Linked DNA regions of Homo sapiens. The protein of the gene in region 3 interacts with the protein of the main gene of each other region in a biochemical or structural test. Each region holds a gene or a part of one and is shown on either strand. Other genes may lie near its edges. The genes, in order: DCAF1, NDEL1, KATNA1 and PAFAH1B1.

Evidence for each region.
Region 1: the proteins of KATNA1 (region 3) and DCAF1 form a complex in vitro, tested with the Homo sapiens proteins (one study listed by BioGRID).
Region 2: the proteins of KATNA1 (region 3) and NDEL1 form a complex in vitro, tested with the Homo sapiens proteins (one study listed by BioGRID).
Region 4: the proteins of KATNA1 (region 3) and PAFAH1B1 form a complex in vitro, tested with the Homo sapiens proteins (one study listed by BioGRID).

The regions. Positions count from the first base shown.
Region 1 is NC_000003.12:51,419,994-51,427,020, reverse strand, and holds part of DCAF1 (DDB1- and CUL4-associated factor 1), read left to right. Parts: intron 1-1,012; exon of another isoform or gene 1,013-1,111; intron 1,112-4,589; coding exon 4,590-4,714; intron 4,715-6,023; coding exon 6,024-7,027. UniProt on the Homo sapiens protein: Acts both as a substrate recognition component of E3 ubiquitin-protein ligase complexes and as an atypical serine/threonine-protein kinase, playing key roles in various processes such as cell cycle, telomerase regulation and histone modification.
Region 2 is NC_000017.11:8,452,862-8,459,888, forward strand, and holds part of NDEL1 (nuclear distribution protein nudE-like 1), read left to right. Parts: intron 1-1,934; coding exon 1,935-2,026; intron 2,027-7,027. UniProt on the Homo sapiens protein: Required for organization of the cellular microtubule array and microtubule anchoring at the centrosome. May regulate microtubule organization at least in part by targeting the microtubule severing protein KATNA1 to the centrosome.
Region 3 is NC_000006.12:149,596,703-149,603,729, reverse strand, and holds part of KATNA1 (katanin p60 ATPase-containing subunit A1), read left to right. Parts: intron 1-356; coding exon 357-462; intron 463-1,977; coding exon 1,978-2,136; intron 2,137-5,379; coding exon 5,380-5,506; intron 5,507-6,088; coding exon 6,089-6,223; intron 6,224-6,540; coding exon 6,541-6,667; intron 6,668-7,027. UniProt on the Homo sapiens protein: Catalytic subunit of a complex which severs microtubules in an ATP-dependent manner. Microtubule severing may promote rapid reorganization of cellular microtubule arrays and the release of microtubules from the centrosome following nucleation.
Region 4 is NC_000017.11:2,673,640-2,680,666, forward strand, and holds part of PAFAH1B1 (platelet-activating factor acetylhydrolase IB subunit beta), read left to right. Parts: intron 1-420; coding exon 421-649; intron 650-2,865; coding exon 2,866-2,967; intron 2,968-6,524; coding exon 6,525-6,681; intron 6,682-7,027. UniProt on the Homo sapiens protein: Regulatory subunit (beta subunit) of the cytosolic type I platelet-activating factor (PAF) acetylhydrolase (PAF-AH (I)), an enzyme that catalyzes the hydrolyze of the acetyl group at the sn-2 position of PAF and its analogs and participates in PAF inactivation.

The DNA.
Region 1 (7,027 bases), on a different chromosome or scaffold from region 3:
TGACAACCATATATAATGTTTATATTACGTTCATATAAAATTGTCCTTTTACTCTTGGAATTCGACATACTGTTAGGATTTTCACAAATTAGTTTAAGGCAGAGCAGGACAAGGCCCAGAAAAGGGTGGCTGATGTAATCAGGAAACTGGGTAGGTTCTATTTGAAGATGATATAAAAAGAAATAAAACTGTTTTGAAAAAGATGGGGTCTTAAGAGAAGATAGTAAAAAAGTTTATAAACAGAGTGCTTGACCTTCTTTTCCTATTCACTCACTGCCATAAAGATAAGAGAGGGGCTTATTTAGGGGAATATAGTAAGTTTGTTAAATCCCAGCATTTAAATATTGTAAGGTACTCTTGGAGCAGGTGTTATTAAACTTTTTGGTTTCAAGATACCTTTACCATATTAATAATTACTGAGAACTCTAAAAGGCTTTTGTTTTTGTGTTATATCTATCAGTATTAGAAATTAAAACAGAAAATGTAAAAATATTTATGCATTAAAAATGTGGGCCAGGCACAGTGGCTCATGCTTGTAATTTCAGCACTTTGGAAGGACGAGGTGGGCAGATCACTTGAGGTCCGAAGTTTGAGACCAGCCTGGGCAATGTGGTGAAACCCCATCTCTACTAAAAATAGAAAAATTAGCCGGGGGTGGTGTTACGCACCTGTAGTCCCAGCTACCTGGGAGGCTGAGGCAGGAGAATCAATTGAACCCAGGAGGCAGAGGTTGCAGGGAGCTGAGATCACGCCACTGTACTCCAGCCTAGGCGACAGAGCAAGTCTTCATCTCAAAAAAAAAAAAGTGAACCCATTGCATGTTTGCGTTATTCATGAAAAATTTCCAAAATAAAACCAGATAATTTTAGCAAGTTTGAAAAAATGTCTGGCCTAATATCTCATATCTGCTTCTGTATTCAGTTTTTGTGACATCACATCATCTCTGGAAGACTCTCTTACTATGCAATGAGAGAATGAGAGTGCAAAAGGAAAGTGACATCTTATTATTACGAAAATAGCTTTGACTTCACAGGACCTTCTGAAAGGGTCTCAGACTTCTAGAGGTCTCCAGACTATACTTTGAGAAGTGCTGTTTTAGAATATTGGAAAAGTAGGTTATTATATTTATTTGGAGAATTGTTTAAAAAGTGATGATAGGCCAGGCGTGGTGGTTCATACCTGTAATCCCAGCACTTAGGGAGGCTGAGACGGGCAGATTGCTTGAGATCAGGAGTTCGAGACCAGCCTGGGCAATATGGTGAAACCCCATCTCTACCAAAAATAAAAAAAATTAGCCTGGTGTGTTGCCGCATGTCTGTAGTCCCAGCTACTAGGGACGCTGAGGTGGGAGGATTGCTTGAGCCCAGGAGGTAGAGAATGCAGTGAGCCAAGATGGTGCCACTGCACTTTAGCCGGGGCAACAGAGCAAGACTCTGTCTCCAAAAAAAAAAAAAAAAAAAAGATGACAGCTTACAAGATAACTAGAAAGGGTATAAATACATTTTTTAAACTGGTACATCTGTGTTTATTTATTTTTTTGTTGGTTTTGGAGACAGAGTCTTGCTCTGTTGCCCAGGCTGGAGTGCAGTGGCAGGATCTTGGCTCACTCCAACCTCCACCTCCCAGGTTCAAGTGATTCTTGTGCCTCAGTCTCTGAAGTAGCTGGGATTACAGACACGCACCACCAAGCCCAGCTACTTTTTGCATTTTTTAGTAGAGACGGGGTTTTGCCATGTTGGCCAGGCTGGTCTCGAACTCCTGGCCTTGAGTGATCTGCCTGCCTCAGCCTCTCAATGTGCTGGGATTATAGGCATGAAACACGGTCCGGCCTGTATTTGGATTATTGAAAAAATATGTCCTTGATTTTAAAAATTTATTTTTAGAAATAAAATTAATAAATGTTTCTGCTTTAGAATATGCAGAATCTTTTAAAGAGAAAAGAAAATTACTCTTAGCATTCACTACGTAATATTTGCAAATACACATAATTAATATTATACTTTTAATCAAATTCATCTTTTTTATGAATATTTTCAAAACATAGAAAGGCACAGAGAATAGTTTAACAACTGCTCCATCATTAACCAGGATTGGCATGTTGTTGTATTTGCTTTTGGCTCAGTTCTTTTTCTGCCTCCCCAGAGTCACCCATCTTCTGAATTTGAACCATATTCTCCCCACTCATGTTTTTATACTATATATATCTGTGTGTTCATAAATAATAACGTCATACTGCTTTGCATGTTTTTAAATTATAAATATTTTCCTAAGTTCATCTTTCACAGCTTGCTTTTTTTACCCTTATATTCTTGAGATTTATATATGTTGATATTTATTTAAAATGCTGTATTTCTATACTGCAGTTTATTCTGCCATTGATGGCTAATTTAGTGTTTTTGTTTGGTTTTTTTGGCTATTAAATAAATGGTATCATGAACCTCCTTTTGGAGGCTCTCTTGAGGATATGATGTAGAGCATCTGGTTTGTAGGGTGTCTGTGTTCTTACCTTTATTGGATATTGCCAAATTGCTTCTAAAAATGTTCATACCATTGTCATCCCCCACCAGCAATATATAGGAGCTTTCATTTCTCTACTTTTTTTTTTCTTTTTTTTTTTTGAGGCAGAGTCTTGCTCTGTCACCCAGGCTGGAGTGCAGTAGTGGTGCAATCTCGGCTTATGGCAACCTCCGCCTCCTGGGTTCAAGCGATTCTCCTGCTTCAGCCTCCTGAGTAACTGGGACTACAGGCGCCCACTACCATGCCCAGCTAATTTTTGTATTTTTAGTAGAGACAGGGTTTCACCATATTGGCCAGGCTGGTCTTGAACTCCTGACCTCGTGATCCACCTGCCCTGGTCTCCCACCACACCCAGCCGGTTTTTTCTTTTTTAACTACAAAAGACATCCAACATTTCTCTACTTTCTTGCCAGTACTTGGTATTGTCAGATTTTTAATTTTATATCTTACATTTTTTATTTTTATATCATTAATGTTGTATTTTGAACCCTTTCCCTCATTCTTTAGGGTTCTTTGAAAATGATTGTCAATGGCTGTAGTTTATGAGTGTACTATACTCTAACACATATGGTGCTCTTGTCTATGTGGGTTTTCTCATTCTTTTGCTATTTTAATGTGGCTAATGAACATCTTAATACATAAATTCTTCTGATTATTTCTTTCTTTCTTTTTTTTTTTTTTTTTGAAACGGAGTCTCACTGTGTTGACCAAGCTCGAGTGCAGTGGTGTGATCTTGGCTCACTGTAGCCTCTGCCTCCCAGATTCAAGCAGTTCTTCCTGCCTCAGCCTCCTGAGTAGCTGGGATTACAGATGCCCACCACCATGCCTGGCTGGTTTTTGTATTTTTTAATAGAGATGGGGTTTCAACATGTTGGCCAGGCTGGTCTTGAATTCCTGACCTCAGGTCATCCGCCTGCCTCAGCCTCCCAAATTGTTGTGATTACCGGCGTGAGCCACTGCACCCGGCCTGAGTCTTTTTTCTTTTCTTTTTTTTTTTTTGTGGAGACAGAGTCTCTCTCTGTGGCCCGAGCTGGAGTGCGGTGGCTCAATCTCAGCTCACTGCAACTTCCGCCTCCTGGGTTCAAGCAATTCTCCTGCCTCAACCTCCCGAGTAGCTGGGACTACAGGCGCCCGCCACTAAGCCTGGGTAATTTATTTTTTTAATTTTTATTTTAGTAGTGACAGGGTTTGGCCATGTTGCCCAGGCTAGTCTTGAACTCCTGAGCTCAGGCAATCTGCCCGCCTCAGCCTCCCAAAGCACTAGGATTACAGGCATGAGACCACGCCTGGCCCTGGCCTGATTATTTCTTTAGGACAGATTGTCAGAGGTGAAATTTCTAGGACAAGGTTTATGAACATTTTAAGAATCTTGTTTCATATTTCCAGATTACTTTCTTTTTCTTCTTTTTTTTCATTTTTCTTTTTTTTTGTTTTTCGAGACAGGCTCTCACTCTGTTGCCCAGACTGGAGTGCAGTGGTGTAATCACGGCTCACCACAGCCTCAACTTCCTGGGCATAGGTGATCCTCCCACCTCAGCCTCCTGAGAAGCTGGGACTACAGGCACGTGCTACCACACCCGGCTAATATCTTATATTTTTTTTTTATAGAAAAAGATAAAACCATGTTGCCCATTCTGGTCTCAAACTCCTGGGTTCAAGTGATCCTCCCACCTTGGCCTCCTAAAGTGTTGGGATTATAGGCTTGAGCCACCGTGCCTGGCCTCCAGATTACTTTCTGGAAAGAGTGTACTAATTTCTACTCTCACCAAAACTTTGAGAGTACGTGTCTCTATATGTTTTCACTAGGATGAAAGGATTCAGGATTATTCTATGTTTTTTATCATAGAAGTTTAATAGGTAAAAATTCCATTGCTATATTTTTTGGAAGTAATGTCATGGTGACTATAAAATCCTCTCTTGATGCGACAGCTTGAGATAGAGCCACACTGGTAGTGCTTCTGATTTATTGTCTCTGTGTGTATGTGTCTATCTGTCTGTGTGTCTCTCTCTCTGTCTCTCTTGATTCTTGTGGCTATACTCTAATTTCCCTTTGACTAATTCTTCCTGTCCAGGAATGACACTGTGCGCTTTGCTTTGGATGTCCTGGCTATTCTTACTGTGGTGCCAAAAATCCAGCTCCAGTTGGCAGAATCAGTGGACGTGTTGGATGAGGCTGGATCTACAGTCTCTACTGTAGGTAGGTTGTACTTTGCCATTTTTGTTGTTTCTTGGTCTGGATTTGTTTTTTCTTTGCCACTCTGGTCTTGGTTACTTACCTGACCTAATTTTGGATTTTAGAACAGAAGTAGTAGAGGGGGGCTCCTTGTCTGTCCTTTATAAGGAGTACCATTCAGCAGATCAGGAACTAATTTAAAAAAAAAAACCAAAAAACAAAAATACAAATGTAGGACCAGATAGTTTGATGTAAGGGAGTCATGCTAGTAAACTCAGGTTTTCTGAGTGGTACTGGCATTTCTGCTATAATGGTATATTATAGCTTTCCTGAAAAGCTCACACTCTGAAGAGTCTTGCACTAAAAATAAAGTTCATGGGAAAAATGGGTTGAGGCAGATAGTAAAAAACTTAAGCATCACAGCTTTCCAGGAGTTAAAGGGAAAAAAAAACAACAAAGTAAGCAGTTTTGTAACCTGAGTCAGTAATTGGCAGGTAGCTCAAAATGGGTAGAAACCGTCATACATATATAAAAAAAGGAAAATATACTTTGATAATATACTTTATTAAGAGCAAGGCTGATCAGGGCACTGCTGGGGTGAGCATGGGAAGTCGTGTGATGGGACAAGATGCAGGATAGGACTAAGACACAGGCACTTGGTTTTTAATTTTCTTAAAATAGAGTGGAAAGGGTTCTGCTTCCACAGTAGCAGCCCAACCGAGGGCTTTCTCCGTTCCTAAGGTTTTAGTGTATTAAAATTAATAAACCAGAAAAGGTCGAGCACAGTGGCTCACACCTGTAATCCCAAAACTTTGGGAGGCCGAGGCGGGTGGATCACCTGAGGTCAGGAGTTCCAGACCAGACTGGCCAACATGGTGAAACCCCACCTCTACTAAAAATACAAAAATTAGCTGGGCGTGGTGACAGGCGCCTGTAATCCCAGCTCTTTGCAGGGATGAGGCAGGAGAATCACTTGAACTCGGGAGGCGGAGGTTGCAGTGAGCCAAGATCACGCCACTGCACTCCAGCTTGGGCGACAGAGCGAGACTCTGCCTCAAAAAAATAATAAAACCAGAAAAAATTGCACATGAACCTTGATTACTTTTCCATAATTATGACATGATTTCCCTATTTAATAACTGCATATGAGATACCATAAAAATACATTGTAGTAGAACTGTCTGCACTTTATACAAACCCTTGCAGTTTTTACAAAAGTAATATAGTTTTTTAAAGTAAAAGTGAGTAGAACACCAAATTTTGACTCTGGAACAACTATTGAAGTTGGCCATTAGTTTTATGGTGAATAATACATAATTTTTTTTCCCATTAGGTATCAGCATTATTTTGGGAGTGGCTGAGGGTGAGTTCTTCATCCATGATGCTGAAATTCAGAAGTCAGCACTTCAGATTATCATCAATTGTGTGTGTGGCCCAGATAACCGAATATCCAGTATTGGTAAATTTATCTCTGGTACTCCTCGGAGAAAGCTGCCTCAGAACCCTAAAAGCAGTGAGCACACCCTGGCCAAGATGTGGAATGTGGTTCAGTCCAACAACGGCATCAAGGTGCTCCTGTCCTTACTGTCCATTAAGATGCCCATCACAGATGCAGACCAAATCCGGGCCCTGGCCTGCAAAGCCCTAGTGGGCCTGTCTCGCAGTAGCACTGTCCGGCAGATCATCAGTAAACTGCCCCTTTTCAGCAGCTGCCAGATCCAGCAGCTGATGAAGGAGCCTGTGCTGCAGGACAAGCGCAGTGACCATGTCAAGTTCTGCAAGTATGCTGCTGAACTCATTGAACGGGTGTCAGGAAAACCACTTCTCATTGGCACTGATGTTTCCCTAGCACGACTGCAGAAAGCAGATGTTGTTGCCCAGTCAAGGATCTCCTTCCCTGAGAAAGAGCTGCTTTTGTTGATACGAAACCATCTTATTTCTAAAGGGCTTGGAGAAACAGCAACCGTGCTGACAAAAGAGGCTGACCTGCCCATGACTGCTGCCTCCCATTCTTCTGCCTTTACCCCAGTCACTGCTGCTGCTTCTCCTGTCTCTCTACCCCGAACCCCTCGTATCGCTAATGGCATTGCAACTCGTCTGGGCAGCCATGCTGCTGTGGGTGCCTCTGCGCCTTCTGCCCCTACTGCTCATCCTCAGCCACGGCCCCCCCAGGGTCCGCTAGCTCTGCCCGGCCCATCTTATGCAGGCAACTCCCCTTTGATTGGTAGAATCAGTTTTATCAGAGAGAGGCCATCACCCTGCAATGGCAGGAAAATCAGAGTGTTGCGGCAGAAGTCGGACCATGGTGCCTACAGCCAAAGCCCAGCCATAAAAAAA
Region 2 (7,027 bases), on a different chromosome or scaffold from region 3:
CCCAAGTAGCTGGGATTACAGGTGTGTGCCACCACACCCAGCTAATTTTGTATTTTTAGTAGAAATGGGGTTTCACCATGTTGGTCAGGCCAGTCTCAAACTCCTGACCTCAGGTGATCCACCCACCTCAGCCTCCCAAAGTGCTGAGAGTACAGGCATGAGCCACCATGCCCAGCCTACAATGTTTGTTTCTAAAAAGCATTTAAAGCAACTTACCATAAAAGCACAGATTTAATAACACCTAAAATGTAAAACTTGAATAGGGAAAAATGAGATCTAGAAATCCCTGCCAAGAACAGTACAGCGGTTTTTTATATCACGTTGAGCGCCTGTTATGTGTCATGTGTTATTCTGGATGCTGGGAGCACAGTGGTAAGACAAAGCCCCTACCTTCAATGAGATTATATTCTTGAGGAGAAGAAGGATAATAAACAACAAAAAAGCCACACAAGTATTTTCGTTGCTGATTAGCACTCTGTGGAAAACAAACATAAAAAATAATAGCTAACCTTTATTGAGTACTTACTACGTGCATTTTTAAAGTACATTAATTTAAACTTCACAACATCTTTATGATGAGGTAGTTGTTATTTGCCCCCTCTTACATATGGGTCACTTACCCAGTGGCTGAACTGGATTTGAATACAGTAGTTCAGCTCAAGAGCCGTTAATCATGATGTCATATTATCTCTTAAAAATTAAGAAATGTGCACGACTGAAAACCTTACTGAGTGTGGAAGAAGATATGGGTAAATATCATGGTAAATACTATGATTCTGAATGGGAAGACTTAATTTTCTTACAATATCCATTCTCCCCAAGTCAATCTGTAATTTCAACTTCTAATAAAAATCCTAATAGGATTTAAAAAATTGATATGTTGATATTAAAATTATTTTGGAATAGTAAATGTGCAAGAACAGCTGAGAAAAATTTGAAATGGGCTAATAACAAGAGGGATCTTTGCCTTTTGAGATCTCAAAATATATTTTAACATTATAATAAAGTAGCATACTTCTGATAGAATAGGCTAATAGTTCAATGGAACTGAAATATATTCATATATTTAGGGAATTTAGTTTATAGTTATAGTGCTATTTCAGATGAGATGAGTTTTCCCTAAATGATACTAGGACAATTGGCTCTCCATTTGGAGGAAAAAATTTAGATATGTATCTTATAGACAACTATAATTTCTAGGTGAATTAAATGATCTAAATGTAAAAAAATCAGAAAAATACTAGGAGAAAGTATGGGAAACATTATGACATTAAGATGGAAAAGCCAAAGGTTCTCCTACCGAAACACAGTGTTTACAAGATGAATGTCACGCTGAGAGATAGAACATCTATAAGAGAAAGGGTGAACATCCAGAATGTATAGAGTTCTTACAAATTGATTACAGGAAAGACAAACCAGTAGAGAAATGTACAAAGACTAAACAGCTGATTTTCAGAAGAGATTCAAATGACTAGTTACTATGGAAATAGAAACTAAAAAACGTGACTATCAAATTGTCAAAAAAAAAAAAGATAATATCTAATATTATCAAGGGCACCACCGCATAGATTGCTGATATTAGCACAGGCTTTTTAGAGAGCATTTTGGCAGTGTCTGTTAAGGTGAAAAAAATGGGCATATGTTCTGACCCAGCAGTTCTATTTTTAGGAATCTCTTTTCCAGAAATACTTGTCTAGATGTTTAAGAGTATATGTCCTTGTAGCATTACTTATAATGGCGAAAAATTTGATATAATGTAAATATCCACCAATTGGACAGTGGTTTAGCCTATTTATGGTATCTATACTTTATCCATAGTTTGAAGTAGTTTGTTGATATTGTATTGAGTGTTACACTACTTTGTAACATCAACAACAAAACCCAAATGTAAAGGGAACTGCAAGTGTAATCACTCAGCTTTTATTTTTCTCTAGCTATACCAAATGGTTTTGGTACCAGTCCACTAACTCCCTCTGCTAGGATATCAGCACTAAACATCGTGGGGGATCTCTTACGGAAAGTAGGGGTAAGTTTCAATTATTTATCACTAGGTGTTTCCACTGACAAGGTATTGAATTATTTCTTAATTTGAAGTGAGGGAAGAAAGAAAGGATACTTTCCTGTGGTAAAGGCTGTCATGAAGCTCAGAAGCAAAAGCATCCATTGACTAGCCAAGTCCAGATGACACTTCATGATGCCCCTGCAGAAGAGCCTGTACCTTGAACTCTGAGGTTCCCACCGGGGCATTCTTCCTGTTCCCCACTCCTGTTTCAACAGCACGATGCCTCTGTCCTTGTCTAGAATACTTTGTCTAAGGCCTGCTGTGTGTCTTCTACCACCCTCATCCTGGTCTTTGCTGCTGTCTACCGTCTTCCTGGTCATTCCTTTGTTTTGTGTTTGTGGGACTTTAACATTTGGCTCATGGCATTACTCTCTACTTTTAGTCTTGCCCACCTTATTTCCTTGGCCACCTCAACTTCAGTGCCTTCTCCTTGGTGTGAGCCTTGTATTCCAGAACAGTTTCGCTTCTGAAATATTAAACCCAGCCGGACGCGGTGGCTCACGCCTGTAATCCCAGCACTTTGGGAGGCTGAGGCGGGTGGATCACCTGAGGTCAGGAGTTCAAGACCAGCCTGGCCAACATGGTGAAACCCTGTCTCTACTAAAAATACAAAAATTAGTCGGCATGGTGGCAGATGCCTGTAATCCCAGCTACTTGGGAGGCTGAGGCAAGAGAATCACTTGAACCCAGGAGGCGGAGGTTGCAGTGAGCCGAGATCGAGCCACTGCACTCCAGCCTGGGCAACAGACAGCAAGACTCCATCTCAAAAAAAAAAAAAAAAAAAAAATTAAACCCGTTTTTCTGCTTAATCAGTGTGTTACTGTGTACCATACCTACTCTTTAACCTCATCAAGAGTATTACCCCATTTTTTAGTGTGTTTGTTTTTATCAGCCATCTCTTGCTTTCACTTCCTTTCTATTCATCTGTGATCTCACACATCTCTTACTCTGTCACTGTTGACTTCATGGTCTCTCTGGCCACAAAGGAGATCTGCAGTCTGAATTACTGGAAACAGTTGCAGAACCATGTGGATTTATGCCACTATCAAGTCAGCATTTCTAGCATTAGCTCCCATTACTATTTCCCTTAGTGAGTTTTACCTCTCCTTTCAGTAATCAACCATTGCCATTTCCCACTATCTACTACCCCCTTCACTTATTTTCGTGTGTGACACTTTCTAAAAAATGTAGAAATTGCATTATACTTTATCTAAAGCAGATATGGGAGGCCAAGACACAGGTCCTATGTTTGCCTGTTTCAGCTCATCATAGGGGTTATTTTCTAACCATCAGATTAAACCTGCATTTTTAAGGTTAAAATACAAAGTAAAGTGCACAGGTCGTTCCTACAGTACATAGAGTAATCTTTCTTCACTCCCAAGATAACCATTTTAAAATCCTCTATGTTGGAGTATTTGTCTTTATAACTTGAAATCATGTGCTTATTTTTCTGTTTATCTTGATTTACTCAACTTTAAGCAAAGATATTTTTATTTTTATTTTTTGTTCTTTTAAAAAAATTACTTTAACATTCTTGAACTTTTGTTTCTGAATGTATTAGGTTATATCTTTTTTTTTTTTTTTTTTTTTTTGAGAACGGAGTCTCGCTTTGTTGCCAAGGCTGGAGTGCAGCGGCACGATCTCAGCTCACTGCAACCTCTGCCTCCCAGGTTCAAGCGATTCTCCTGCATCAGCCTCCTGAGTAGCTGGGATTACAGGCACATGCCACCACACCTGGCTAATTTTTGTATTTTTAGTAGAGACGGGGTTTCACCATGTTGGCCATGCTGGTCTTGAACGCCTGACTTCAGGTGATCTGCCTGCCTTGGCCTGCCAAAGTGCTGGGATTACAGGCATGAGCCACCATGTCTGGCCAGTATTAGACTATATCTTAACTCGCTGTTCTCTCCCTTTCTTCCCCACCACACTCCCACTCCGCTTTCCTTTTCTGAGCCCTCTACTAGCTGTGTGAGCTCTCTGTTGGTTGGTTCTAAAAATGGAAAAGTAGTCAAACAGCATTTGTAACAATGCACATATATGTGTTATTTACTGTGTAATCACAGAGGAGATGCTGGACTTTCAGATGGGTCTTTATATTTGTGCCATTCAACAAATGTGTTTTGAGAATTTTGTTCTTTAACTGTAATTTACTCAAAATCATACTGGGTTTTTAAATATTTCGTATTGTAGCTGACTGTACGCTGCTTTCTTTTCCTAGCATTTCTGTTTCCCCTTCTTTCTTTTGAGTAGAAGAAACCTACACCTTTCTTTGCTCTCGGATCTTCTAGCTTCTTCTTCACACTCTTTGTGGGATGCCCTGATGGGCTTCGAGGGCTGCTGCATTGTTGTCGCCCTCGAATTTCTCTCCATTTTACTCTTGGGTTAGTTCTGCCTGTTCCTCACCCCACGTTGTTGTCTGTCTTTGTTCCTTGTTTGTTTTGCTTTAGTACTTTAATTTATTCAGAAGTGGTGCATGAAAGTTTAATTTGGCATCCTTGTATGGTTTACACATTCAGCTGACAATCCGTCTTCTAAGAGTTATCAAAATAACGACCTCCAAAAGTCATCAACACTTTGGGTCTGCTGGTGTCCACCAGCCCTTGTTGGCTTTTATGAATATTTCATTTATGCCTCTTTACACGACTTTGTCCACTGACTTGAACTGGAAGCCCTTCTCCACTCTTGCATGCCTTCACAGAGAAAATCAAGGCCATTTGTTTTAAGCTTCTTTGATTTCTTTTCTCATCTTTTGTTATTACTCTCCTATTATTACCTCTATTTGTAGCCATTCCTCCTTTTTGTCCCAGTGGTAAAAGTGCAAATTCCTGTCCGTGGCTAATTTTGTCCATCTGTGCTTTGGATCTCATTTCTTCCAACCCTTAAATCTTTATTTCTCCTGTATTTCAGCCTTTTACTATATATGCGTTAATATTTATGTATAATGTTTATGTATTACACATTATATGTTATGTGTTATACAGGTATACTTTGATATTTCTGTATTACATGTTATCCATATAAATATATGTAATACTTATGTGGTACATATTACATACTTTAAAGCTTCTTGAAAGCGTGTCCCCATTTATTGTTAGCATTTTGACTGCATGCACACGCCCCAGACACTTTAGCCTGGGCTCTGTCCCCTGCTTATGCCGCTAAAACTGCTCACTGGTGATCTCAGTGCTGTCAAATCCTGTGGATGCCGTTCTGTCCTAATTTTACTTGAAGCATTCAACACTGACCGTTTTTTTTTTTTAATGCCCTCTTTTCTCTCCTTCTCTGATGCTGTTTCATGGCTGCTCCCAACTTTCTTTCCATTCCTCTTAGTCATCTTGTTGGGTCTTCATCTGCTCACCCTTTCGATATTGGTTTTACTCAGAGTTCTGTCCTTGATTTTCTGATCTTAATCACAGCCATAGTTTCATCCACCCCTGGGTGTGGATGTCTTTCAAATCTTAATCTCTAGACCACCCTTTCCCCCCTCAAAAGACCTGGTGCTCGTGCTTGGATGTCTCACTGATGTCTCAGACATAAGTTGTGCCTGCCGTGTGATAGATACTCAATATGGATTTGAATGAATGCGTGTCTTGAATATAGGAATTGAATGGCTCTCAATTTCTACTGTGTGTGTGTGTGTGTGTGTAGCTTTAATAAGCTGCTGAATTATTGCTGAATTATGCTTATTCAGAGTTTGTTTTACAAGGTCATTACCTCTCTTCCTTTTTTCTGTTGTCATTTTAGTAGGTCATTGTACTTTTGTCATAGGAAAGAAGGAGAAGAAAAAAGTTTGTCTGTTTTTGTTGCTGTTTCTTTTTTTTGAGACAGAGTCTCACTCTGTCGCCCAGGCTGTAGTGCAGTGGTGCTATCAAGGCTCACAGCAATCTCTGCTTCCTGGGTTCCAGTGATTCTTGTGCCTTAGCCTCCTGCGTAGCTGGGATTACAGGTGCATGCCACCACACCCAGCTAATTTTTTTATTTTTTCTTTAGTAGAGACAGGGTTTTACCATCTTGGCCAGGCTGGTCTCGAACTCATGGCCTCAAGTGATCCACCTGCCTTGGCCTCCTAAAGTGCTGGGATTACAGGAATGAGCCACTGCACCCAACCATTGTTGCTGTTTCTGAATAGCTGTTATTGAAATGTGGGGGGAGGAGGTCCAAATGGATTCTCAAAGTGAAGTATATGTTACCTGTGGATTTAATTTAGCTGTGCATTCCCAGTCCTTTACTGTCATGGATAATAGACATGAATTGTGTATATATATATTTTGCCATGGATAGTATTTTTCTTTTCGGAGAAGGAGGGGTTTGATTTGGGCAAAGTGTTTATGGGAAAGAGACAGCTGGTGAAGTGTGAGTGTGTGGAAATACATGAGAAACGCCTGATCTCTCCATGTCATCTGCGTTGGTAGAGCCCTGTGCTTGCCAGGTGTTGTGGTGACAGGTGCAAAACAAGGGTGCCCAATTTAGAGGTAAATGCTAAAAGGCCAGTGTCATTTGCGGGTGAATTATTTAATTACAGACAAAGGGTATCAGTTAAACATTTTACAGAGTGCTGTCAGAAATAAAATAGCTTTTAATTTCATGTAAAGTGTTGTAAATGTTCTCATCCATTCTCATGCAGTAGAAAAAATGAAGAACCTAGAGAAAGAATTGGCTGCCGTAAAAAAAATTCTCAAGTGATATTTTTGGGTTTTTTAATAGTGCTTGCTCCCAAAACACACCCTGCCCCCCAACACCAACTAACAGTCTACAGCTTAGAAACGAGCAATGGATAGGGTCAAGAGACCTGGGATCTGCTGTTCCACCTCCTGTACCACACTTTTTTTAGTTGTAAGGGGAAGATTATATGTATTTCCTTCAGTAACGCTAAGAGGAGGAAACAAAATATTCTGAGGTCATTAGAAAGGGAGCATAAGTATTCCCCCTTTTTATTAGAAAGTTGATTGATTATGGCTGAACTAA
Region 3 (7,027 bases):
TTTAAAATACATGGGCTCATTGTTTCTAAATCATGGAGATTATGGAATGAGGACCATAAGAGCAGGAGTTTAAAATGAGTTGACACATAACCCTGAAGAGTGTGCCTGTAGACTATGTTCTCGTGATCCAGGCTAAAAACTGTCAACCGCCAATAACTGAAGAAAAGGTTGTGCTCTTTATATATCTGCTGGTTGACATGGTGGGCCTCATCACAGTGCATTAGTTCACCCGGGCTCAGAGAGAGGCTCACCATTCTGTCAGCAGTGCAACATCATGTGCTTCCAGTGGTTCTCAAGAGTGACTGCATAGACATGTATCATCTAAAGGGTTGTTAATAAAATGTCTTCTCTTTCAGGGATGATATCGCTGATTTAGTAGAAGCTAAAAAGTTGCTTAAGGAAGCCGTAGTGTTACCAATGTGGATGCCCGAATTCTTTAAGGGCATTAGGAGACCATGGAAAGTAAGTTTATTACTGTGATGGCATTGTCAAAGTAAATGGCAGCATGTTGATACAGAGAGCCAATATTTATCTATATTGGGAAAAGTGGAGGGAGAAAGTGGAGTCAGGAAATGTTTAAATTAAAAGGTATATGTTGTGCTACTGAGAATTTTGTTAGACCAGAAGCTGTTGCATGATTCCTAGAATAAGAAATACATACAATGTGATCTTTGGAAAGTTGAATACACAGCATTAAAATTTAGAATTTGGCCGGGCGTGGTGGCTCACGCCTGTAATCCCAGCACTTTAGGAGGCCGAGGCGGGCGGATCACCTGAGGTCAGGAGTTCGAGACCAGCCTGACCAACATGGAGAAACCCCGTCTCTACTAAAAATACAAAACTAGCCGGGCGTGGTTGTGCGTGCCTGTAATCCCAGCTATCCGGGAGGCTGAGGCAGGAGAATTGCCTGAACCTGGGAGGTGGAGGTTGTGGTGAGCTGAGATCACGCCATTGCACTCCAGCCTGGGCAACAAGAGCGAAACTCTGTCTCAAAAAAAAAAAAAAAAATTAGAATTCACCCCATTTAGAATGAGCTCATATTTGCAAATATGACCTAGTCAGCTAATGCAAAAACACTCCATTTTATATGTCATGTTGCATGATTGTAACCTGTATTTTGGGGATTGTTCTCAATAAATTAATGAGAAATATCTGCATGTGATAAATACTTTTTAAAGTCATGGGCTGATCTAAAAAAAGACCATCAAAAAAGCTTTTCTTGGATTTGGAAAACACACTGATAGGTAACTCTGCATGTATGAATAGTTGTAAAAATCCTTTATACATTAAGTGATAAGCAAGATACAAAATGATAGATATACTTTGAATAAATTATATATATATATGTATTTTGTTTGTTTTGTTTTGAGATGGAGTCTCGCTCTGTCGCCAGGCTGGAGTGCAGTGCGATCTTGCCTCACTGCAATCTCCGCCTAACGGGTTGAATTGATTCCGCTGCCTCAGCCTCCCGAGTAGCTGGGATTACAGGCATGTACCACCACGCCCAGCTAACTTTTTTTGTATTTTAGTAGAAACGGGGCTTCACCATGTTGGCCAGGATGGTCCCAATCTCCTGACCTCGTGATCTGCCTGCCTCGGCCTCTCAAAGTGCTGGGATTACAGGTGTGAGCCACCATGGCTGGCCGAATAAGTTATATTTTTAAACAACCTAATTTGTCTGAGCAAAAGGACAATCAGGATATAAATCCAGATGCTAATGGTACCTCTGTTAGGGTGCTGATATTATAAACTACTTTTTCTCATCTTTGAGTTCCAAATTTTTCATAATGTGGTTATCTTCTTTTTTAACGGGAAGAGTAAATTTGTGACAAAGTATCCTCCTGTTTATCTGTTTGTCTTTTATTTGTCTTGATATTATATATAAGTTGGTCGAAATTTGCTACTTAGTAATGACACTTTTATGAATTAGAACAATGGCAGATAAATCCTCTGCTGAGGCTATTATATTCGCAACAGGGAGTACTGATGGTCGGCCCACCTGGCACGGGGAAGACGCTCCTTGCTAAAGCAGTAGCTACAGAATGCAAGACAACATTCTTCAATGTCTCTTCATCAACTTTGACTTCCAAATACAGAGGAGAATCTGAGAAGCTTGTTCGTCTTCTGTTTGAAATGGTGAATGTTTGAGACAGCTCTAATGATTCTTTACCTCTCTAAAAGGGGAGAAAGTGAGCTGTAACTATCTCCAGTATATGGAATAGTTAGGCAGGATGCCATTTTGCCCAGAGTATGAGTCCTATGCCCTTAAAGCTAGATTTCTTTACAAACATGAATAATTAGAGTTTCTCTTTGTCTCTTTTTCTCCAGATGTAGATCCAAATCTACCAGTTTTGGGGCATGCTCACATTATGGGATCTGCATTACTAATCTTCTGTAGGAATCTGAAATTATGTTTTTTAAATCAATAGGTTTAGTTATAATATGATAACCACAGTATTGTAACAATGATGCCAAAAGGTGAGAATCATAATTTATTGTGGAACTTAGGTCACCTCCGATCTATTAACTGCACCAAATGCCTTCATTTTAATGACCTAATCTTTGGATTAGGTTCTTTCTTCCACCAATACAAATCAGAGTACCAATAGAAGAAATGTAATTCAACAAGTTCTGGTAGAGTGTTTAGATTGAATTCCACAGCCTTTTAAACTTCAGACTTTGTTAAGCTTCACTGATTACGTCACTCTTGCCTCTAAGAAACAGAGTAGTTTTATGTAATTAGGATAGAGTTATGCTATTAGTGACAAAGACGTGAATCTTCTTTTTTTTGAAATGGGTTCTCAGTCTTGCCTAGGCTGGTATGCAGGAGCATGATCACAACTCGCTGCATCCGTGACCTCCCAGGCCCAAGTGCTCTTCCCATCTAAGCCTCCCAAGCAGCTGGGATGATGGACATGAGCCACCACACTCAGCTCATTTTTTTTTTTTTTTTTTTTTTACAGATGGGGTCTTGCTGTGTTGCCCAGGCTGATCTTGAACTCCTGGGTTCAAGTGATCCTCTTGCTTCAGACTCCCAAAGTGCTAGATTTATAGGCATGGGTCACCAATCCTGGTCAAGACATGAATTCTATTTTTTTTGACAGGGTCTCATTCTGTCACCTAGGCTGGAGTGCAGTGTTGCAATCTCGGCTCACAGCAGCCTTCACCTCCTAGCCTCAAGCGATCCTCCCACCTTAGCCTCCTGAGTAGCTGGGACTACACAAGTGCACTACCATGCCTGGCTAATTTTTGTATTTTTAGTAGAGATGAGGTTTTGCCATGTTGACCAGGCTGGTCTTGAACTCCTGACCTCAGGTGATCTGCCCACCTTGGCCTCCCAAAGTGTTAGGATTATAGGTATGAGCCACTGCGCCTGGCCTTTTTTGATTTTTTTGTAGAGATGAAGTCTCACTACGTTGCCCAGGCAGTCTAGAACTCCTGGCCTAACACTCCTCTTGCCTAGACCCCATAAAGTGCCGGGATTACAGGCAAGAGCCATTGTGTTCAGCTTTTTTTTTTTTTTTTTTTTTTTTTTAAGATAAGCTCTCACTATATTGCACAGGTTGTAGTGCAGTGGTTATTCACAGGCACAATCATAGCATACTGCATCCTCCTCTCTCAGCATCCCAAGTAGCTGGGACTTCAGTCGTGTACCACTGCACTCAGCTTTCAAGCCTTATTTTTATTGTCCTTAGGGTAATGAACTCTCAGCAAAGTTAGCCCTCATTTTGTCATAGTTCCAGCAAAAGTCCAAAGATTAATATTTGGCCTGTTTTGAGTTTCATACCTATGCCGAAACTCCTTGTTTTTGGTCAGAGAATTGGAGTGCTCTGATTGGCCAGGTCTGAATAAAACCCCTGGAGTTCCAAGTAAAGTTAGCCTCTTTTGAAGTAGTGGAATAGGAATGAGAGGGGCCCGGCATGGTGGCTCATGCCTGTAATCCCCGCACTTTGGGAGGTTGAGGCGGGCAGATCACTTGAGGTCAGGAGTTCGAGACCAGCCTGGCCAACATGATGAAACCCCGTCTCTACTAAAAATACAAAAATTAGCCAGGTGTGGTGGCGTGCACCTGTAATCCCAGCTACTTGGGAGGCTGAGGCAGGAGAATTGCTTGAACCGGGGTGGCAGAGGTTACAGAGAGAGGGAGAGGGGAGAGGGGAGAGGGGAGGAAAGAAAGAAAGGGATGATTTGCAAATGAAAAAGAGGCTTCTCTTACCAGAAGTGTGCTGTGCAGGGAGAACCAATTGGTGTCCTCTACCGTACCTTCCTGGGCCAGCTAAACCCAGGACACATAGCCTTTCCTTGAAGTCAGATCATTCTACATAACCTCAGTATGTGGGAAGAATCAGTCTAGTCACTTTTGCTTGGTGTGGCAACAGACTGAAGTTTAATTTTTGTTGATGTAGGTGCTTTTGATAGATGCTTCCTAAAATTTTAGTTGAGAATTTTCTTGGATGTTTTAATGATGATGAAGTTCACTCTTTCCCTCTCTCCATTTGTTGAAAAAGTACAAAAATATTTATACATAAAGACCCAAGTATTGACTCTCTTTAAAGATGAAATTATCCCACTAGGTACAGTGGCTCATTGTAATCCTAGCATTTTGGGAGGCCGAGGCAGGAAGATTGCTTGAGTCTAGGAGTTTGAGACCAGCCTAGGCAACATAATAAGACACCATCTCTACCAAAAATATAAAAATAAGCCTGGTGTGGTGGCACACACCTGTAGTCCTAGCTACTCGGGAGGTTGAGGTGAGAGGATTGCTTGAGCCCAGGAGCTCAAGGTTGAAGTGAGCCAAAATCATATCACTGCACTCCAGCCTGGATGACAGAGCAAGACCTTGCCTCTTAAAAAAAAATAAATAAATAAAAAACGGTTCATTAGAAGCCATATTTTAGCTGTTCTAATTCTATCCCATCTCCCCAGTATTAGCGTGAGAGAAAGATGCACAGTGTGGCAGGCTCCTTAGCTGTTTTGTTGTTTTCTTTCTTTCCTCTTGTTTTAGAGACAGGTTCTCACTCTGTCACCCAGTCTGGAATACAGTGGTGTGGTGTGATCATAGCTCACTGCAGCCTTGAACTCCTGGGCTCAAGGGATCCTCTCACCTAGCCTCCTGAGTAGCTGGGACTCAGACACGTGTAACCACACTCAACTAATATTTTAATTTTCTGTAGAGATGGAGTCTTGCTATGTTGCCCAGGCTGGTCTCGAACTCTTGGGCTCAATCCATCCTCCTGCCTCACCCTCCCAGTGTTGGGATTACAGGTGTGAGCCACTGTGCCCAGCCTCCCTCAGCTATTTTCTGATTGCTAATCTGTAGATTATTTTAAAATGAAATAATAGCTTAATAGCTTGATATTGCATGGTTTCTTCCTTTAGGCTCGATTTTATTCTCCAGCCACCATATTTATTGATGAGATAGACTCCATCTGTAGTCGCCGAGGGACTTCTGAAGAACATGAAGCAAGCAGAAGGGTGAAAGCGGAGCTGCTGGTTCAGATGGATGGTATCTGTGTTTAGCTTGAGTTGAACAGGGACGGGAGGTTGTTAGGTGTGGTGTCTCCAGTTCCAGTGGGTCAAACTTTACTCATAGTGCTAACCCAAGCTTTTAATAGGTATTCTTAACTTCAGATGGACTAGAGGGGGTGGCAAGAAGTTCCTGATAGTGATAGTAATAGATTTGGTACACTGACAGTGGTGACAAGTCAGAATTAATGGCCACACACAGGGCACCCTTTTGGTATATACAACTATCTTACTTTAGCTATGAAATTGAAATAAAAATAAATGCAGATAAATTGGCCTTAGAGTTTATGTACGCTTTGAAAAAGATTTAAAATTGTTATGTATTTGAGATCTGGCTTTTCGATTAAATCTATTTTGAGTCATATATTTGCATACTACAGAACTCATTTTCTTTGGATTACAAATTCACATAGGTACCAGTTAACCTAAGTCTTAAGGAGGCATTAAGACTGTGCTTCCTTGTATTGTTGTACTAAATAGTTGTTGATCTTTAAATAGCTGAGCTTCATTTGGTATAATCCAACTTAATATCTTTTTCACTCTCCCCTTACCCTTATTTTAGGTGTTGGAGGTACTTCTGAAAATGATGACCCTTCCAAAATGGTTATGGTTCTGGCAGCTACTAATTTTCCCTGGGATATAGATGAGGCTTTAAGACGACGCCTTGAGAAACGAATCTATATTCCTTTGCCGTCAGGTATCTTCCTTTCAATCTTGTCAGAAAGCCTGTTAACTTTCATGTAGTTTTGTTTAGAGAATTTAAAATTTGTTATTAACTAACTTTCTGGAAGAGATACATGAGGAGTATCTTCCTTTACAGTACTAGTTTGGCTATATGCCTTAATACTAAATAGTAAGGAATTAAAAAGTAAAGAATGGCTCTTTACTTAATTATCTCTTCTTAGAGATCCAATTCTTACTGGAAGACAACATCTCACACAAAGAAGATTTGAGACAATAGTATACTATGTTTATGCTGCAGGCTTACATTTTAAAATTTGTTTCTACCATTAGCAAAAGGCAGGGAGGAGCTATTACGAATAAGTCTACGTGAGTTGGAATTGGCTGATGATGTTGACCTTGCAAGTATAGCAGAAAACATGGAAGGTTATTCAGGTGCGGACATTACCAACGTGTGCAGGTATGAATTATCATGGAAGCATAGGTTTTTGTAAGCATAAACTTCTAGTATGAAGTTTTTTGGTTTTGTTTTTTGAGACACAGTCTCGCTCTGTTGCCTAGACTGGAGAGTAGAGGCGCAGTCACAGCTTACTGCAGCCTGAAACTCCTGGGCTCAAGTGATCCTCTGACGTGAAGTTTTTATGCTGAATTAAGACAGATCAATATCTTGGTGGTGGCTCACGCCTGTAATCTCAGCACTTTGGGAGGCCAAGTGGGAGATCACTTGAGCCCAGGAGTTTGACTGGCCTGGGTAACATTGCAAGACCTCATATCCATGAAAAAAATTTTAAAAATTAGCCGGGCATGGTGGTTCCCACCT
Region 4 (7,027 bases), on a different chromosome or scaffold from region 3:
AAAAAAAAAAACAAAAAGTAAATAATCTTTGTGCTGGTATACCTCTGTTAGGCTGAATTTGGTTGTGCATAGAATTACACTTGATTTTTGTAGTACAAAGTTACTAGTTTTACTCAGATTAGTAGAGCATAGCTTTTTTCCAATATGGCTGGAAATACTTTTAAGTGTGCATTTAGTTTTGAAAGATTTTATTTCTTATACATATTTTATCTTCTAGATGTTGATTTTATTAGCTCCTTAATGATATGTCTGTTAGCTTATTGTTCCTACTTTAATTAACCAGGATTGTACATTTATTCTGTCGACTTGCATCTCTAACTTGGTACCATTCTCTTCATCCCAGTACATATTTTTATATCACTTCTGGGAAGTGTCCTGATGATTGTCATTCACAGTGTAAGTTATTATTTATATTGACAGCTACTGTGTGAAGACATTCACAGGACACAGAGAATGGGTACGTATGGTACGGCCAAATCAAGATGGCACTCTGATAGCCAGCTGTTCCAATGACCAGACTGTGCGTGTATGGGTCGTAGCAACAAAGGAATGCAAGGCTGAGCTCCGAGAGCATGAGCATGTGGTAGAATGCATTTCCTGGGCTCCAGAAAGCTCATATTCCTCCATCTCTGAAGCAACAGGATCTGAGGTACTGTATATACAAATGTCTTCATGGTTTTATTGCTGATATCTGAAGTCCTTAGATAACTTTGCTAATTCCCTGTTTCAGGGCTGTTAATGCATTTAAAAATCTGCATCCAGCAATTCTGAATCTTGAAATTCTCTACTCTTCACAGCTTGCTGATGTGTTTACATTATTTAACCAGTGATGATTATTGCTGTCAGCCTATCCTTGATTTGATACGTGATGGGTATTCTCCTAAAGAATTAAAATTTATCAGAAAAATCAGTGTTATGAGATCATCTCAATGTAAAACAAAACCTGAGGGAGAGGTTAAAGTTTTCTGTCAGAAAAATAGCCTTCATTAATGAAGATAATGATTTTATTTATAAATTTATGGTAAAATGCAGTTCAGTATTTATTTTTTAAAATTAATTCCAGATGTGATAGTATAAATGTTTTTTTAAATGAAGACTAATCCATATGGCAGCCTCTGATGTTCTTGATCATTTAAAAGTACTAGCTGAGCCTGGAGTTTTAACGCATTTCTTTGTGATCTTTATGGTTTTGGTCTTTATTATTAATATGTTAAAAATTACAAGGTACAGCGGCACATGGCTATAGTCCTAGCTACTCAGGAGGCTGAGGCAAGAGGATCACTTGTGTCCAGAAGTTAAAGTTCAGCCTGGGACAACATAGCAAGATCCCTGTTTCTAATAAATGAATGAAAATGAATGGTCTAAAACTTTTGTTTGTTTTTGAGACAGTCTCACTCTGTTGCCCAGGCTGGAGTACAGTAGCGTGATCTCGGCTCACTGCAACCTCCGCCTCCCAGGTTCAGGCGATTCTCCTGCCTCAGCCTCCTGAGTAGCTGGGACCACGGATGCATGTACCACCCTGCCAGCTAATTTTTATATTTTTAGTAGAAACAAGGTTTTGCCATGTTGGCCAGGCTGCTCTCAAACTCATGGCCTCAAGTGATCCGACCACCTCAGCTTCCCAAAGTTCTGGGATTACAGGTGTGAGCCACTGTGCCTGGCTTCACATTGATTTTGACAGAGGCATTCCTATCATGTATTTTTAAAACTACATGTCAATAAACAAAGGAGGCAGTTTCCTCTCCCTCTACCCCCATCCCACTTATTTTTCTAAATGAATCTTCTCTTGTGAGTTCTCTTTATTTTGATTGGCCCATTGCATTTTGAGATTCTGTTTACTGCCCTCTGGTGGTGGTTACATGCTGTATGTCATAAATTTGATTCTGGTGTGGTGGCTCACGCCTGTAATCCCAGCACTTTGGGAAGTCAAGGCAGGAGGATCACTTGAGCCCAGGAGTTTGAGCAACATAGCGAGACCCCGTCTCTACAGAAAACTTTTTTTTTTTTTTTAAACTCACCACTATACTAATGACGGAAAAAATTTTCAAAAACTTAGCTAGGTGTGGTGGTACACTCCTGTAGTCCCAGCCACTAGGGAGACTGAGACAGGAAGATTGCTTGATCCCAGGAGTTCAAAGCTGCAGTGAGCTATGATTGTTCCACTGCACTCCAGCCTGGGTGACAGAATGAGACCCTGTCTTGAAATAAATAAATATTCCCTAATCCAGATCAAAAAAATAAATAAGTAAATTTGGTTTTGGTTGGATTTGTAAAAGTTAAATTAAATAGTGATTACAGAAATCTTGAAAAGTAAATTTATTATCTGTTGGTTTTATGAAAACTGAGTCCTAACCTAAATAGAGACTTCTGTTCTTACATTATCTGAGTCCTTCCTGTGTAGCATAGGTATGGTGTGAAAGACTTGTGTATTTCAACAGATAAAAACAAATTGGGCTGGGCGCAGTGGCTCACGCCTGTAATTCCAGCACTTTGGGAGGCCGAGGTGGGCCGATCGATCATCTGAGGTTAGGAGTTCAAGACCAGCCTGCCCAACATGGCAAAACCCCATCTCTACTAAAAATACAAAAATTAGCCACATGTGGTGGTGCGTGCCTGTAATCACATCTACTTGGGAGGCTGAGGCAGGAGATTCGCTTGAACCCGGGAGGCGGAGGTTGCAGTGACCCAAGATTGCACCACGGTACTCCAGCCTGGGTGACAGAGCCAGACTCCGTCTGAAAACAAACAAAAAACCAAAATGCAACAAAAAAATTGGAAATATATATCATTATTAGATAGAAGCCATTTAAAGTCCATACCTAACTTCTTGTGTGGGAAACTTAATTTTTATTATGTTTTCTGTAGACTAAAAAAAGTGGTAAACCTGGGCCATTCTTGCTGTCTGGATCCAGAGACAAGACTATTAAGATGTGGGATGTCAGTACTGGCATGTGCCTTATGACCCTCGTAAGTTTGCATAATCTTACCATTTCTTTTGCATCTTCACTGTTTATACCTTTTTGGATTAATGCTTTATGATATCTTAAATAATCTGAATTATTCTGGGCTTTAAAATAACTTCTTTATAAAGATAGTTTTCCTTTAGCTTTTGTTGTTGTTATAGTGATGTGAAAGTTATTTCTCTAGAATGCAGATTCTATAAAGAATCTGTAGAGCCAGTCGGTGTTTGAGGGGGAGATGCTGCTAGCTCACTGTATCTTTAAAAATTGTGTAATATCTCGGCCGGGCGCGGTGGCTTACGCCTGTAATCCCAGCACTTTGGGAGGCCGAGGCGGGTGGATCACGAGGTCAGGAGATCGAGCTAACTTGGGGAAATCCCGTCTCTACCAAAAAATACAAAAAATTAGCTGGGCGTGGTGGCGGGCGCCTGTAGTCCCAGCTACTCGGGAGGCTGAGGCAGGAGAATGGCGTGAACCCGGGAGGTGGAGCTTGCAGTGAGCCGAGATTGTGCCACTGCACTCCAGCCTGGGCGACAGAGTGAGACTCCATCTCAAAAAAAATAAAATAAAACAAATGTGTAATATCTCTTACGGAGAAAAAGCAGCATTCTTAGAGACCTGTTCACTGTTGAAGATGTTTGTTTCTCTGTTTCACTTTATTTATATGAATCCTTTTAACTGTTATACCTCCTTGCTCACATGATCTAGTTTATTTGGCTTATTTAGGAGCATCTGTATTTCCATAGAAAGATATGTCAATACTAGTAAGGGATTGTGGACATTCCTATGTGCCTAAAGGAGTTCCAAGGAGATCTGTGGATGTTTGTTTAGTAGTAGTTTTTATAATTTGGCATCCACATTTGTTTAGAGATTTTTTAGGTGCTAATGATACCTTGAAGTGATTGTCTCTCTGTAGGATATGACAGACATATGTGGAAGCATCTTCAAGAACTGATTAGAAAATGAAACTCTCGGCCGGGCACGGTGGCTCACGCCTGTAATCCCCGCACTTTGGGAGGCCGAGGCGAGCAGATCACGAGGTCAGGAGATTGAGACCATCCTGGCTAACATGGTGAAACCCCGTCTCTACTAAAAATACAAAAAATTAGCCGGGCATCCTGGCGGGTGCCTGTAGTCCCAGCTACTTGGGAGGCTGAGGCAGGAGAATGGCGTGAACCCGGGAGGCGGAGCTTGCAGTGACCGGAGATGGCACCACTGTACTCCAGCCTGGGCGACAGAGCGAGACTCCGCCTCAAAAAATAAATAAATAAATAAATAAAAAGAAAATGAAACTCTCCTCTAGTAGTATTCTGAGCGGAGTTCAGCTATACCATGTTGCTGTTAAGAAAAGATGATATATAATTAAAATAAAGCAGGCCAGGCGCAGTGGCTCACTCCTGCAATCCCAGCACTTTTGGAGGCTGAGGCAGGTGGATCACCTGAGGTCAGGAGTTCAGGACCAGCCTGGCCAACATGGTGAAACCCCGTCTCTACTAAAATTACAAAAATTAGCCGGGCGTGGCCAGGCGCGGTGGCTCACGCCTGTAATCCCAGCACTTTGGGAGGCCGAGATGGGTGGATCACCTGAGGTTGGGAGTTCGAGACCAGCCTGACCAACATGGAGGAACCCCATCGCTGCTAAAAACACAAAATTAGCCAGGCATGGTGGCACATGCCTGTAATCCCAGCTACTTGGGAAGGCTGAGGCAGGCAAATCACTTTAACCTGGGAGGCGGAGGTTGCAGTGAGCCAAGATCACGCCATTGTACTCCAGCCTGGGCAACAAGAGTGAAACCATCTCAAAAAAAAAAAAAAAAAAACCCGGGCATGGTGGCGCACGTCTGTAATCCCAGCTACTCGGGAGGCTGAGGCTTGAGAATCGTTTGCACCTGGGAGACGGAGGTTGCAGTGAGCCGAGATCGCACCATTGCCCTCCATCCTGGGCAGTGAAGTAAGACTCTGTCTCCAGGAAAAAAAAAGAAAAGAAACAAGAAAAACATACTCTTGGCCAGGCACAGTGGCTCACACCTGTAATCCCAGGACTTTGGGAGGCCAAGGCAGGAGGAGCCCAGGAGTTTGAGACCAGCCTGAGCAACATAACAAGACCCTGTCTCTACCAAAATAAAAGTTTAAAAATTAGTCATGCATGATGATGCATGCCTATAGTCCTAGCTACTTGGGAGGCTAAGGCAGGAGGATTACTTGAACCCAGGAATTTGAGGCTTTAGTGAGCCGTGATCATGCCACTATACTCCAGCCTGGGCAACAGAGTTGCTGTCTCTTTTTAAAACAAAACAAAATTTTGCAGTGCTGTGCTATAACTGCACTATCCAGCGTGGTAGCTACTAGCCACATGCAGCTATTATACTCTTGAAATGTGGCTAGTGAGACTGAAGAACTGAATTGTTGGTTGTATGTAATCTTAATATTATATATTAAAGTAGGCGTACATGGACAGTAGCTACCATGTTCAACTGTGCAGTTCTAAGCCTTTTTCTTTAATGTGTAGATGAATGTGCTATTTTTTATAAAAATGGTATCATGCCCCTTAAGGTAGCTTTGTAGCAAACCTTTAATTTAGAAAGTATGTGATCCTTGCTTATGTTGTTAGATGCTCTTCTACACTGATCTACAGACAATGCTTTGTGAACATCTTTGCTAACTAAATCTCTGGGCATGTCCTTAAAGATAAATTGCAAGAACAGAACTGCTGCGACAGGGGAAATATGGATGGATAGATGGATGGATGATTAAATGGATGGATGATTAGATGGATGAATGATTGGATGGATGGATGGATGGATGATTGGATGGATGGATAGATGGATGATTGGATGGTTGGATGGATAGATGGATGATTGGATGGATGGATGGATGATTGGATGGATGGATGGATGGATGATTGGATGGATGGATGGATGGATGATTGGATGGATGGATGGATGGATGGATGATTAGATGGATGATTAGATGGATGATTGGATGGATAGATAGATGGGTGGGTGGGTGGATGGATGGATGATTGGATGATTGGATGGATGGATGGATGGATGGATGGATGGATGGATGGATATATAGATATATAGTGAATGCCTGTATATCCTTCACTTAGTTACCATTTGTTGGTTTTCCTTCATGTATGTGTGTATATTTTGCTGAAATCATTTGAGCGTTCTTTGCAGACATCGTAACACTTTACCCCCAAGTATTTTAGCATGAACCACCTAAGAACAAGGATAGTATATAAATAACCAAAATAAAATTATTCACACTCAAGAAATTTACCATTGATAGACTACATATTGAGATTTGTTCTTGTTATTTCCATAATGCCCTGCGGGACTTCTTTTTAACCCTCATCCAGGACCCAGTCAGGGATCGTACGTTATATTCACTCCTCATGTCTTATGAGTTTTCAGTTTCCTTTAATCTAGAATCCCCTAGACTTTTATTTTCTTCTGGTCTTTTGATGTTTTTGGTATGTATAGTTTTATCGTATTATGAAATAGATGCTATTTAAACATTTTGCCTTTTACTGAGTCAAATAACTTTTTTGTTTTTAAGGTGGGTCATGATAACTGGGTACGTGGAGTTCTGTTCCATTCTGGGGGGAAGTTTATTTTGAGTTGTGCTGATGACAAGACCCTACGCGTATGGGATTACAAGAACAAGCGATGCATGAAGACCCTCAATGCGCATGAACACTTTGTTACCTCCTTGGGTATGTACGCCTCGCGAGGTCTCTGAACATTAGATTTTGGAGTGCCAGACAAACTGTGTTTTACATAATCGTGTGGACTTTGCCAGGTAAGAAATGACTGTGCTTTCAGGGCAGAATAGAGAAGACATGAAAATCTTGTGGATTCCTACCATTTGTTTTAAATTCTCCTTTCCCGTTAACTCTTTCCATCGTTAGCCTTATAATAAAAACATTACTTTCTCCACTGCACAACATTGGTTTTGGAAACCACAATTTGTGAAGAGGTTACTTACCACTCTGATGGGTAATTTTTCTCCCCTATTAGTTTGTTTCTCAAACAAAATCTTCCTCAACCTTTCCCACTGGC